4 separate regions of the Homo sapiens genome follow, and regions 1, 2 and 3 are each reported to be linked to region 4. The links are microRNA targets in miRTarBase. Many come from high-throughput screens and were not tested one by one. Region 4 holds a microRNA gene; each other region holds the end of a gene's coding sequence.

What was found. Region 4 holds the annotated microRNA hsa-miR-1304-3p (UCUCACUGUAGCCUCGAACCCC, at 1,813-1,834, shown strand). A microRNA usually pairs through its seed, bases 2 to 8, with sites in the 3' UTR of a target mRNA and lowers its output. Matches are read on the target gene's strand: a 7mer-m8 pairs with bases 2 to 8, a 7mer-A1 pairs with bases 2 to 7 and ends in A, and an 8mer does both.
Region 1: the mRNA of LUC7L2 is a reported target of hsa-miR-1304-3p. Seed matches in the 3' UTR shown: 7mer-m8 at 2,434-2,440.
Region 2: the mRNA of LRRC8B is a reported target of hsa-miR-1304-3p. Seed matches in the 3' UTR shown: 7mer-m8 at 581-587.
Region 3: the mRNA of BTBD19 is a reported target of hsa-miR-1304-3p. Seed matches in the 3' UTR shown: 7mer-m8 at 2,442-2,448.

What each region holds. Positions count from the first base shown.
Region 1 is chr7:139,421,781-139,424,860 of GRCh38, reverse strand. LUC7L2 (LUC7 like 2, pre-mRNA splicing factor) reads right to left here. Exons shown (of 10, transcript NM_016019.5): 10 at 1,407-2,698. The coding sequence ends at 2,521. FMC1-LUC7L2 (FMC1-LUC7L2 readthrough) reads right to left here. Exons shown (of 11, transcript NM_001244584.3): 11 at 1,407-2,698. The coding sequence ends at 2,521. LOC100129148 (a long non-coding RNA gene) reads left to right here. Exons shown (of 3, transcript NR_033999.1): 2 at 1,476-1,576. Among named protein-coding and RNA genes, the nearest start is that of KLRG2, 60 kb to the left of the region's middle.
Region 2 is chr1:89,592,737-89,595,816 of GRCh38, forward strand. It overlaps LRRC8B (leucine rich repeat containing 8 VRAC subunit B), which reads left to right. Exons shown (of 6, transcript NM_001369817.2): 6 at 35-3,080. The coding sequence ends at 307. Among named protein-coding and RNA genes, the nearest start is that of LRRC8C-DT, 39 kb to the right of the region's middle.
Region 3 is chr1:44,813,251-44,816,330 of GRCh38, reverse strand. BTBD19 (BTB domain containing 19) reads right to left here. Exons shown (of 8, transcript NM_001136537.3): 6 at 3,062-3,080; 7 at 2,832-2,957; 8 at 746-2,693. The coding sequence ends at 2,559. Among named protein-coding and RNA genes, the nearest start is that of BTBD19, 6.3 kb to the right of the region's middle. RefSeq lists a silencer at 2,343-2,412.
Region 4 is chr11:93,732,445-93,735,524 of GRCh38, reverse strand. MIR1304 (microRNA 1304) reads left to right here and starts at 1,761; the gene lies at 1,761-1,851. SNORA8 (small nucleolar RNA, H/ACA box 8) reads left to right here and starts at 3,026; the gene lies at 3,026-3,080. SNORD5 (small nucleolar RNA, C/D box 5) reads left to right here and starts at 2,225; the gene lies at 2,225-2,297. It overlaps SNORA18 (small nucleolar RNA, H/ACA box 18), which reads left to right and starts at 1,928; the gene lies at 1,928-2,059. It also overlaps SNORA40 and a transcript of TAF1D not described here.

The DNA of each region.
Region 1 (3,080 bases), not on the chromosome of region 4:
AAAAAAAAAACAAGCCTGGCAGGGGTAGGGCAGGGAGGGGTTGCTCATGCCTTATACTCCCAGCACTTTGGGAGGCCGAGGCGGGCCTATCACCTGAGGCCAGCAGTTCAAGACCAGCCTGGGCAACACGGCGAAACCCCGTCTCTACTAAAAATACAAAAATTAGCCGGACGTGGTGGTGCACGTCTATAATCCCAGCTACTCGGGAGGCTGAGGCAGAAGAATTGCTTGAACCCAGGAGGCGGAAGTTGCAGTGAGCTGAGATTGCACCATTGCACTCCAGCCTGGGCAACAAGAGTGAAACTCCGTCTCAAAAAAATAAAAAACATACCTATTTAAGGAGGCTTTTTTCCTTAGTTTTAGTTGGTGTTGATAAGCTCAGCAAAGGAGCTTTAGGGTAATACTTGATGACAGCAAAATGAAGGAAACCTTACTGAAGGTAAAAACTTAGCAAAACACTCCCCAGAGGGACAAAAGTTTTTTGCAAATACAATATACTTACTTATGCTTTCTACCAGTCACCAACACAGAAAGACCAAAAATTGTGTATGAGAAAGTGATATTAAGATTTGAGATTTTATTCTAATTCAGTGGCATCAATCATGTAAAGAGCCATGCGGTTGAAGTGGTCCGCTGTGGCACGCAGCCCCACAGTGATGGTGCGCTTTATGCCCTGTTCATGTTGGGGCAGCCTATACCATCTAGAAACCACAGCTGCAGTAACCATTGATATATAGACCTGTGTTACTTCTACAAGTGTTCCATTCCAACTGTACATATGCTTTAGAGTTCAAAATCTAAGTCCAGATATACTATTATAATGGGCCAGGTCCCAGACATTCTTCCTCACACCAACCAGCTAGTCCTTTTGATCTTACTCCGAACCCCAATGTACGAAATCTGAAGTGCTTGTAAGGATTTAGAACAGCACAGACTACCCGGAACAAAGGAGATACAAAACATTTCTTAGCAACCAAAAATAAAAGGGAAATGGGCCACTGAGGCAGATGGGTCTCTCAGATTAAATGCCATATAAATTGCATGTGTGGAACCAAATACAGCAGAAAACCCTCAGTTAATGAGGCATAGCTTGGTAAATTGGGAACTTGATGAGGGTTTTTAACGTAATCTGGTATCACTTAGAATGGCCTTAGTTTCCCATTCTCTCAGCACCTTCACAGAGGCCCACATGCCTCTGACATCAAATCTGTCAAACTTGGGGACAAAGGACATTAACAGTTCTTGAAAGGTGACCTTAGTTAATGATACCCACAGATACTAATTTCATTACTTAAGGAATCTGTGTTCCTCAGAATTTCCAGAATCACAAGTGATACCTGCCAATTACAGTTTAAGTTACTAACGGATATACAACTCTTCAAGGCAGAAACTTAAGTCTCATTATGTTGGTTACATATACTGTTTTTATTTGGGTTTGTTGAATGAGAATAAAAACACCCCAGTTTCTTCTGCAGGTCGAGCCCTTCTCTATAACGGTCATTACAAACAACCCTGAAGTGGCTGGAATATAGTCAGCAAGGGGCCCACATGAACAGCTCATCTGGAATCTTTGCAAGTACGTATTTATGTCCTTTGGTGCCTTGCACAGTAAGGCACTGTTAATGACGTAACAGAATAGAGGAAATGCCCACAGCAAATAGTTCTAGTGACAATTTACTAGACAAGTTACAGTTTAATAATGGTGGTGGTGATTGTTTCTTTCATTTTATTATTATTATTTTTTTACAATAAGGGTGTAGCCTTTATACTCCACACACACAAAATAAAACAAGTGCTTATTACGAAAAGAGTCCCTGCCCCCACCCCCTAGAACATCCTGAACATAGCAATTCAACAGAACAGAAAAATCAAGACGTTTGATTTCAAAATTTCAATAAAAAAGCAAAAGTATGTAATGCAACAGCTGTTCAACTTCCAACTCTAAATAGGCACCATTAAACAAAAAACCCCAGTATTTTAAATTTCTCCAGCACACATTCCAGGATCAATGCTCTGAACTGTAATCAGCTAGTAATTCATAACGGGAATACAGCCTTAGAATGGAAGCTATATTGCTTCCCTGCCCCCTTTCTCTTACAATTGGAGAGTGTAGGTATTAAGGGATACAAAGTCAGAGGAAGAATAATTAAAAAGAAAAATGCCCAAAGCTGCAGCTGTTTGGACTAGGAAGACAGCATTTTACAAACGTTCAAAAAATCCCAAGGCAAGTAACACAATTTGTTCACTAGCACTCTTACTTGAAAGAATAAAGAGATCAGCATCTTATTATATAAAACTGTACTTTCAGAACTGTATTACAGGTTCACCAGAAACTATGGATGTAGTTTTAGGCATCATCAAGGAAAACAGGTTCAGTTCAGATCAAGTTAGATACTGTACATCTAGCCTAGCTGGATCTGGTGTCTGGATCTGCTCACTGTCACCCTGAACAGCTGTGAACTAAACAATAGTACGTAACTCCGTAGGAAGCTTAAGGACTGAAGAAATGTACACAGCTAGTTAGATCTCCCCTGCTTCGCGCTCTTCAGAGCTCCTCCTGTCTTCTGATCTGCCATTAGCACTCTCATAGGACCGCTTCTTATCTTTCCGATCTCTGTCACGAGGTGATCTGTCTCTTGAACTCCTGTCTCTGTCACATGATGCTAAGTCTTGGTCTCTGAATCTTTCTTTTGAGGATCTGAAAAATATTAATTTGAGGAGCAAAATATGTTGGGAAACCCAAAAACCCAAATTAAAGAATAGGATAAATATTAAGCTCTTGATAGCTGAAGATATATAGACGAATATACCCATGACAGAGGAGTCAGTTTTCTGACAAATTACAGAGCACTACCATAGTTGATAAGGGCATTAAAACAAGAAGATGGGTGAAAAACAAATAGCAGAGGGTCAGAAGGCTAAAATAATTTCTTACAGGCTACTCTCATCTCAGAGACAACACAGAGTTTCTCCAATTCATAAAAGGTATTTTAATATAAAAAATAATACATAGATAACAGCTTTAAAAAGTGAAAGAAATGTATTATCTAAATTTTAAATGGCTTAGAATAGGGGCCAGA
Region 2 (3,080 bases), not on the chromosome of region 4:
TATTTTACCAGCTTCTTTTTTCTTCCCTTTCCAGATTGAGATGCTACCAGATGGGCTGTTTCAGTGCAAAAAGCTGCAGTGTTTACTTTTGGGGAAAAATAGCTTGATGAATTTGTCCCCTCATGTGGGTGAGCTGTCAAACCTTACTCATCTGGAGCTCATTGGTAATTACCTGGAAACACTTCCTCCTGAACTAGAAGGATGTCAGTCCCTAAAACGGAACTGTCTGATTGTTGAGGAGAACTTGCTCAATACTCTTCCTCTCCCTGTAACAGAACGTTTACAGACGTGCTTAGACAAATGTTGACTTAAAGAAAAGAGACCCGTGTTTCAAAATCATTTTTAAAAGTATGCTCGGCCGGGCGTGGTGGCTCATGCCTATAATCCCAGCACTTTGGGAGGCCAAGATGGGCGGATTGCTTGAGGTCAGGAGTTCGAGACCAGTCTGGCCAACCTGGTGAAACCCCATCTCTGCTAAAACTACAAAAAAATTAGCCAGGCGTGGTGGCGTGCGCCTGTAATCCCAGCTACTTGGGAGGCTGACGCAGGGGAATTGCTTGAACCAGGGAGGTGGAGGTTGCAGTGAGCCGAGATTGTGCCACTGTACACCAGCCTGGGTGACAGAGCAAGACTCTTATCTCAAAAAAAAAAAAAAAATGCTCCAGGGCTTTAAATGAGAAGTAAAATTTTCTAAGTTAATAAAGATGAAGAATGGGTGACTATTATGATGAACCATAACTAAATGTCTTATTAAAGCAACTGAGTGTCTAGCCCTAAATTAACCAGGTAAAAACTGTTAACACTAACCTGAAGTTTTGTGAATAACTGTTCTTTAACTTATTGAGATGTTGCAAGAAATGCACATCCAGGGTGGACTGGGAGCTATGAAATGACTAAATTCCTCCTTGCAGTGTTTACCTTCAAGATTGTATAGGTATTCTCTCCTCTTCTTCCCCCAGTCCCCATTACTTATTTGCACACTTGTTTTAACTGACTTCCTGTTTTGATATTTATCACCAAGACCATAAACTCATCAATATGAATTTTCTTGATGTATACTCACGACTGTCTTTGATTTATGTTCCTAAATTTTTTTAGATAGGGTATGTTGTGCTTGGCAGAATTCTTTTTTGGCTTAATTTTTACTTCCTTTCCCAGCTTGCTTGAGTCTTCCTTAACCTGGTTTTCTCTTAACACCAATGATGAACCCTGAGAAAATGCCTGCATTTGGCCTTTGCCTAGAACAGGAGCTGAGTATTTAAGATGTATTATCCTCGGGGCATCCTGAAAATTAATGTATTCCCTAAAATTTCTTCTTGTCTATCATCAAGGCCTTTTTTTATTTGTTAAGAATTTTTATATTAAATGTAAAACATATAAATATTTTCTATTGTATAATCTTGGATTCAACATCTGTGAGGATCATTTTTGTAAGATACATAGAATTTGTGCATTTCTTTATGAACTTACTGTTAGTGTTCTTGGTTTCGGCTGTTTATGACTCATGTTTATGTACATTCTGCTCCAAAATGTTTTTGTACTCTGCAACTAATTACTTTTGGATAACAAAAGCCTTGTGTTTAATGCCCTAAAGTATTTGGGGGTTTCCTTGTGAGAGGGTGGCCGAATCATCTACCTCTCTCTTCCATAGTTGCTGTGCAATCGTACGGGTAAAATTCTTAATTACTTACAAAAACTGTGATAGAGGGGAGAGGTACAGATTTGGTTTTTAAATTGATTTTAAAATACTTTATAGAAATTTAGTAAGAGTTAAAGCAAAAGACTTTTTTTCCCTCCATCTATGTAATCTCTAGCTATGATTATAATGTAAAACAGCCTCTATTCAGTGTCTAAAATGAGTTCTCAAAACCCACAAAGAAATAGATCCATTTAACTGAAATTCATCTCATGCCTTTATCTAACTCTTCTGGAAAATACATTTTGCTCCTTTTTATAAAGAGCTTTGTGCTTGGCCTTTTATTATGCATATTTTTAATGAATAAAATCAACTGACTCATTTTTGGGAAATGTACATCTTTAATATGTTTTTCCCTAAGGGTCTAGGCATTATGATGCCACCTCTTCATTTTGGATATAACTATGAAGAAATCTATTAACTGCACCTACACAAAACTGGAAAACACTATAGGTAAACAGTACTGTGTATATGGAATTGTGGTGCGTGGTATGTGTTTTCTCTTGCTTTGTTCCAGAAAGATGAAAGTGAGTCTTTAAAGCATAGCAAATAGAGCTTCCCCTCACCTGCCACACACTCCTGCACTAAAGTTCAAAGAAAAGAATTATTCAAATCAAATGAAATTTGAATAATATTAGCTATCAGGAATATAGGACACCAAACACACTGCCTCACACATTATTGTTTATTCTGAACGGAAAGGAACAGTGTAAAAATAAACTACTTACCAAAACTTGCCTTTAGTCAGAACATTCAGCTCTCAGGGAAGCAGGTATAACTGATGAAACTTCTAGGACTTCAGAAAACAGATTCTAATTATATCCATGTTTTTCGTTGTTATTTTCATTTTTTAAAGTGTGAGTTGATGTTTATTTTAGTGTTTCACAATAGAATTATCATGTATACTGATTCCAGTGTGGCATGTGATTAAGTTTTGGACATGAATATGCCAAAAGTGCTTAAATGTTTTTGGCCACATAACTAGCTAGAATTTCAAAACAAAATTCAGATTTGCTACCATTCACCTGACGAACTTCTCCATGGCTCGTCACTGGTTTGGTTCAACTGCAGAAGTCATTGGCTAAATTTTCCTTATCACCTACGTAAATTTCTAGAAGAATTTACTAGCAGGATTAATAATGAATATTATAAACTGCTTTCCACACACTAGGGTATAATTATTGGTGCAATCTATGTTGTTCTTGATGCCATGGTTTTACATCTTTTAATTTAAACCTTATACACCAGTGTTTAGGTCGCTTTTGAGACAAGGTAGCCCTGATGCAAGGAAAAATGAGGCTACTACTTCACATAAAAAATAGGGTGTTAATACCACCTTTACTGTACTGTTGGAGCAGATCTTTATTTTACAAGTGTTCATATT
Region 3 (3,080 bases), not on the chromosome of region 4:
TATTTTTTTTTTTTTTTTTGAGACAGAGTCTCACTCTGTTGCCTAGGCTGAGTGCAGTAGCACAATCTCAGCTCACTGCAACCTCCGCCTCCCAGATTCAAGCAATTCTCGTGCCTCAGCCTCCCAAGTAGCTGGGATTACGGGCATGTGCCACCACACCTGGCTAGTTTTTTGTATTTTAGAGACAGGGTTTTGCCATGTTGCCCAGGCTGATCCCGAACTCCTGAGCTCAGGCGAACCACCCACCTCGGCCTCGCAAAGTTCTAGGATTACAGGCGTGAGCCACGGTGCCTGGCCTCCTGTACAATATATTTTTGTATGAAGTCCCTGAGATAGAAATCTAACTTTATTTTCTTCTAAATAGTCAACTGTCTCTCATTTTAGATTGACAGTATCTTGCTTTGCAGCTCCTTTAAAACTCTTCATGGAATAAAGTGGCATTTAAATGAGGAAATAGGCTGGGTGTGGTGGTGCTTCATGCCTGTAATCCCAGCACTTTGGGAGGACGGAGTGGGACCATTGCTTGAGCCCAGGAGTTTGAGAACAGCCCGGGCAACGTAGGGAGACCTCATCTCTACAAAAAGAAAAAAAAAAGTTAGCCGAATGTGATGGAACATGCCTGTAGTCCCAGCTATTCAGCAGGCTGAAGTGGGAAGATCACTTGAGCCTGGGAGGCTGAGGCTGCAGTGAGCCGAGATTGCACCACTGCACTCCAGCCTGGGTGAGAATAAGGTTGTGTCATAAATAAATAAATAAAGTCATTTACTTAACATTTACATAGCACTGATTATCTGACAGAGACTGAGGAAGCAGAAACGAGTAAGACACCACTCCAGGCCCCAGGGATCTTTCTTGAGGGAGATTCACATCCTCGGGAAAACAAGATGTATAGTGAATGAAGGAGGTAGCAGAGGGGTCTGCAGTAACTGAGTAAGGTATGGAGCTAGAGGACTAATACCTCCAGGATAAATGAATTTATACAAAGATTGTATTTGAGAGAAGAGGTGAGGAACCACTCACTAGTAGTTTTGAGTGCCCTGAAAGTGAAATAGATTGAATTTTGTCCTGGAGGTCAATGGGATGTTCCAGGACTTAAGCCCCATAGGACTGACAATCAAAAACAGGTCTGGCTGCACTGTGGGAAATGGATTGAGGGGGCGCTGGAGTGAAGGCAGGAAGGCTGTGAGACGTGTCAGACAGGACAGGTTGAACCTGGGGCTGAGAGAACTGAACCAACTGGAAAGGTCTCTTAAGGTCTCTTACAAGGTAAAAAGAGACCTAAGGCAGGTGTGAAGAGCGATAAGGCAAGGATGAGATCCAGGTTTCTGGCGTGGGTGTCCACGGAAATGAGAAACACGATGGGGGCAGAGCTGGGGAAAAGCTGGGGAGATCAATTTCTCGCCGAGCCTGTGGTGTCTGAGGGGCATTCAGGGAGCGATCTCCAGGGGGGCAGGTCTGGAATGAAAGAAGGAGCTGAGGCCGGGCATGGTGGCGCACACCTGTAATCCCAGCACTTTGGGAGGCCGAGGCTGGCGGATCACATGAAGTCAGGAGTTCGAGACCAACCTGGCCAACATGGTGAAACCCCCGTCTCTACTAAAAATACAACAATTAGCCGGGCGTTGTGGTGCATGTCTGTAATCCCAGCTACTCAGGAGGCTGAGGCACGAGAATCGCTTGAACCCGGGAGGCGGAGTTTGAAGTGAGCCGAAATCGCACCACTACACTCCAGCCTCGACGACAGAGCAAGACTCTGTCTCAAAAAAAAAAAAAAAAAGGCCGAGGCGGGCGGATCACAAGGTCAGGAGATCGAGACCATCCTGGCTAATACGGTGAAACTCCGTCTCTACTAAAAATTCAAAAAAATTAGCCGGGCGTGGTGATGGGCGCCTGTAGTACCAGCTACTCCGGAGGCTGAGGCAGGAGAACGGCGTGAACCCGGGAGGCGGAGCTTGCAGTGAGCCGAGATGGCACCACTGCCCTCCGGCCTGGGCGAGAGTGCGAGACTCCGTCTCAAAAAAAAGAGAGAGGAGAGAAAGAAAGAAAGAAAGAAAGAGATAGAGAAAGAGAAAGAAAGAAGGAAGGAAGGAAGGAAGGAAGGAAAGAGAAAGAAAGAAAAAGAAAGAAAGAAAGAAAGAAAGAAAGAAAGAAAGAAAGAAAGAAAGAAAGAAAGAAAGAAAGAGAAAGAAAAAGAAAAGAAAGAGGGAGCTGAGCTGAACAGATAGATATGTGGGAGTCATCAGAATAGACTAGTAGACGACAATGCCCAGGGGCAGGGCGTAGAGTCAGGGTGTGGAACGAAGGAAATCCTCGTTTTCGAGTTTCACCCCCTCAGGGAGGCCCAGCCCAAGCCCTGCCCGGCCCGACCCCACCTCGCCCACACGGGCTTGATCCCGCACAAGGGGCTGCGCGTGGCAGACAACGGTTCTTCCGGCGCCCGGCTCACTGGGCACGCTGGGAACGGAAGCCCGCTCCGAACGCCGAGCACTTCGGGAGCTGTAGTTTGGGGCAGGCTCAGCTGGGCGGGTCGAGGGCTCCCTGCGAGTCCCGGCGTTGGATCATTTGAAGGACAGGTCCAGAAAGCGGTGATGCTCCCGGGGCAGGGTGCCTCTCCGGCGGCGACACGGGGCGCCCCGGGCCTCATCCCCTCTCCGCAGGGCATGGCATTTCCACGCCTCCACAATCTGCTCCACCTGCAGAGCAAGGCCAGTTAGTGCGCAGTCCCGCGGTGGCCCCTCGCCCCGAGGACCGTGGGCCGGGCTGCTCCTGCCCCCTCCCAGCGCCCTGTACCCCCTGCTGAGTGGAGCTGGGCCGGTTCCCCGCGTCCCCACCGGGATGAGTGGTTCCTGCCGGTTCTGCTCTTCCAGGGCGCTCAGCTCCGCCGGGGCCAGCAAGGCTAGTCTCAGCTCTTTCACCACCGGGGCCGCCACCTCAGCCACCGGCCGCTCCAGCACCGCCTGCAAACGCCAGCCCTGAGTCGGGCACCTGTCCTGCCGCCCGCTCACCAGTCTCGTGGCCAGCACCTCCTTCCGTGCCCTTGCGCTCCCCCAGCCCCACTCACCGCGCCCACGCGCGCCCAG
Region 4 (3,080 bases):
TAGTTTTTGTTTTTTTAGTAGAGACAGGCTTTCACCATGGTCTCGAACTCCTGACCTCAGGCGATCCGCCTGCCTTGGCCTCCCAAAATGCTGGGATTATAGGTGTGAGCCATGGCACCTGGCCTAATACTACTTTTAACTACCATTTTCACTTTTTATTAGTTCAAGAAAAGGCATACACATTTATTCAACATGTATACCTGGGGAGAACCAGTCATTACCCCGATGTTCATTATTTTGATCACCACGATAGAGCTGACTACTCTGCTATGTAGTGCATTTTGGGACTGCACTTATGTATGTTTTTGTTTAACGTGGACAAAGACTTACAGATAGGTGCAAAAAATAAATCCTCTTTTGCAACCCAGAACTCATTGTTCAGTATGAGTTTTGATACATATAAGAAGGGATATTATGATACCTGAGACAGTTGATTGATGGGAGTATTGATAGCCATAAAGGTTGGTTCCAGGCCAGGTGCAATGGGTCAAGCCTGCAATCCCCACACCAAGGTGGGAGTATTGCTTGAAACCAGGAGTTCAAGACCAGCCTAGGCAAGAAAGTAAGAAACACATCTCCACAAAAATTTAAAAATTAGCTGGGTACTGGGGCATGTGCCTGTAGTTGGAGTTACTCAGAAAGGGGGGAGGCTGAGGCAGAGTTGGAGGCTGCACTGAGCTTTGATGGCACCACTGTACTCCAGCCTGAGTAACAAAGACAGACCCTGTCTCTTAAGAAAAAAAGGTTGATTCCAGGCCTGTAGAATAGATAAACAGCATGGGATATGAGGGAAATCCTCAGCAGTATTAATTTTGCATTCCAATTTCATGTTGATGATATACACAATGGCTTTTTGTTTTAAAGGCTTTTATCTTGAGAACATGGTGTCTGGAGTTAAAGGTATGTCTCAATTTGAGTTTTCACATCATATTTGTTTATGTGTAGGAAACAGTATGTTGTCAGAGCAAGTTTCATTTTATTCAGGGACATTTCTACCATGCTTTTAATTCCCATTTATACTGATTTCTGAAAAGAAGAATCCTAGATTCACACATTTTATAGTGATGTGTCAGATTCATTTTAGTTGCAAGCATTAGAGGGTCCTGAATTTGTTAGTTTGTAGCAATAATCAGAACTTTGGATTTCCTACTTGAAGCCTACAGCATTATTTTGAATTAATGCACAATCTAAAATGAGGCAGAGGATTTTATGGTTTAATGCAAAATATAGTATAATAAAAGATGATTACACAGGTCATAAGAATTCATAAATTTGAATGATGTAGAGTTTGATTAAAAGTTATATAATGCCAAAGTCGTAACTTACAGGCACATTATATTCCTGTATTTTATAATGGATGACAATTAATTTTGAGCCAAGAATTAAAATTTGCTGAAATCTTCGAATTGGGAAAACAACATCCTCTGTTGCAATACTGAAGTTCATAACAACAGTTAGACTTTAAACTTAAATCTTAAGTTTAAATCTTTTTCCTTTGGTTCATGTAAAGGAGCTACTTGATGTTACTTTTTATTTATCATTCCTCTGGCTCCTAAGCACAACGTGATTGTGAAATTATTGTTTTTGTGATTAACGTAGTAGGAAGTTTCTGCAGTTGGCAATATTGTAAGAGCATATTGCAGTTTCTGCTCATAATTTCTTTCCTATGGAGTGTTAGACTTTGTTATTTATGTGTATAAATACTAGCTGGACACAGTGGTGCCTGTGGTCCCCAGCTACTCTGGAGGCTAAGGCAGGAGAAACACTTGAGCCCAGCGGTTTGAGGCTACAGTGAGATGTGATCCTGCCACATCTCACTGTAGCCTCGAACCCCTGGGCTCAAGTGATTCAGCAAGAATCACACGATTTTTAAAAGACATGGCAGATCCTGTGTCTTTAAAAAAAAATCAAAACCTTGTAAATAGTGGTTGAGGTCTATCCCGATGGGGCTTTTCCTGTAGCCTGCACATCGTTGGAAACGCCTCATAGAGTAACTCTGTGGTTTTACTTTACTCACAGGACTATTGTTAGATCTGTGGGAAGGAATTACAAGACAGTTGCTAAAAGTTTGAAAAAGACGGTTGCTAAACGTTATGAAAAACCAGATAATCTACTTTTTTACCTTAGGTATTGGCATACTCCACACATCTGTACCATTCTTGAGTGATCGCTTAGGTAAGTTTTAATTGGTGACAGTATAATCTTTTGGGAAATAATGATTACAGTTCAGATGATGAATTTAACTGTTCAACTGCTGAATGATAACGGGCATGAACTAAAACTTAATTCTGACAGAGCTGGATATGGCTGTATAATAAACTGGATCTTAAATTTATACTTGGGTTTTAGTTTTAATAACTGGAAATGTATCCTTTCTAAATCTTTAATTGGTACTTTCTATAGGAATGAATGTGATTTGAACTCATTCATGTTGAGAGGTAAGTAAAATATTTAACTTATAATAATCAAGGACTCAAAAGATGAAAAATAGAAATTACACCATCCCAGTATTTCAGGTATAACACAGAATTAGTAAGATACTGGCAAAAATATTACAATGTATATATTTGTATAGAGAAGGAAAATGAAGAGACTGCATGTCTATACCTACCAAACGAAACTACCTGTGTTCTTTGCATCATTATTCAACTGGCAGTTACACATATTTCATCCTAAAGTCACGTAAACCTGTGTGGATATGTTGAATCAATAGGGATATGAATTACATAAAAAGAATTTTGTGTAACTGGCAGTTTGAGCAACAATGAGCTTGACGTTTGTTGTCTGATCTGTTAAGTTACATGTATATATTCCATCTTTAAGTTTTATAGAGAGACTGGGCAAAGATTAGGCAAAGACTAGAGTTGTAGCTTAAAATGTAGTTAATGTAGCTTCCTTATTACAGTGACAATTAGGAAAAAAGCTCAAATTATTGTACTTGTTAAAGGAATTTGAGAGGTTTGTGAAAGCATTTCTCAGCAATATTGCAAATTTGGGAATACGAGTTGTACAGTTCAGTCATAATTGCACTGCATGGTATCTGCACTCAGCAGTTTACACCTGCTAGGGTGTTCAAAGGT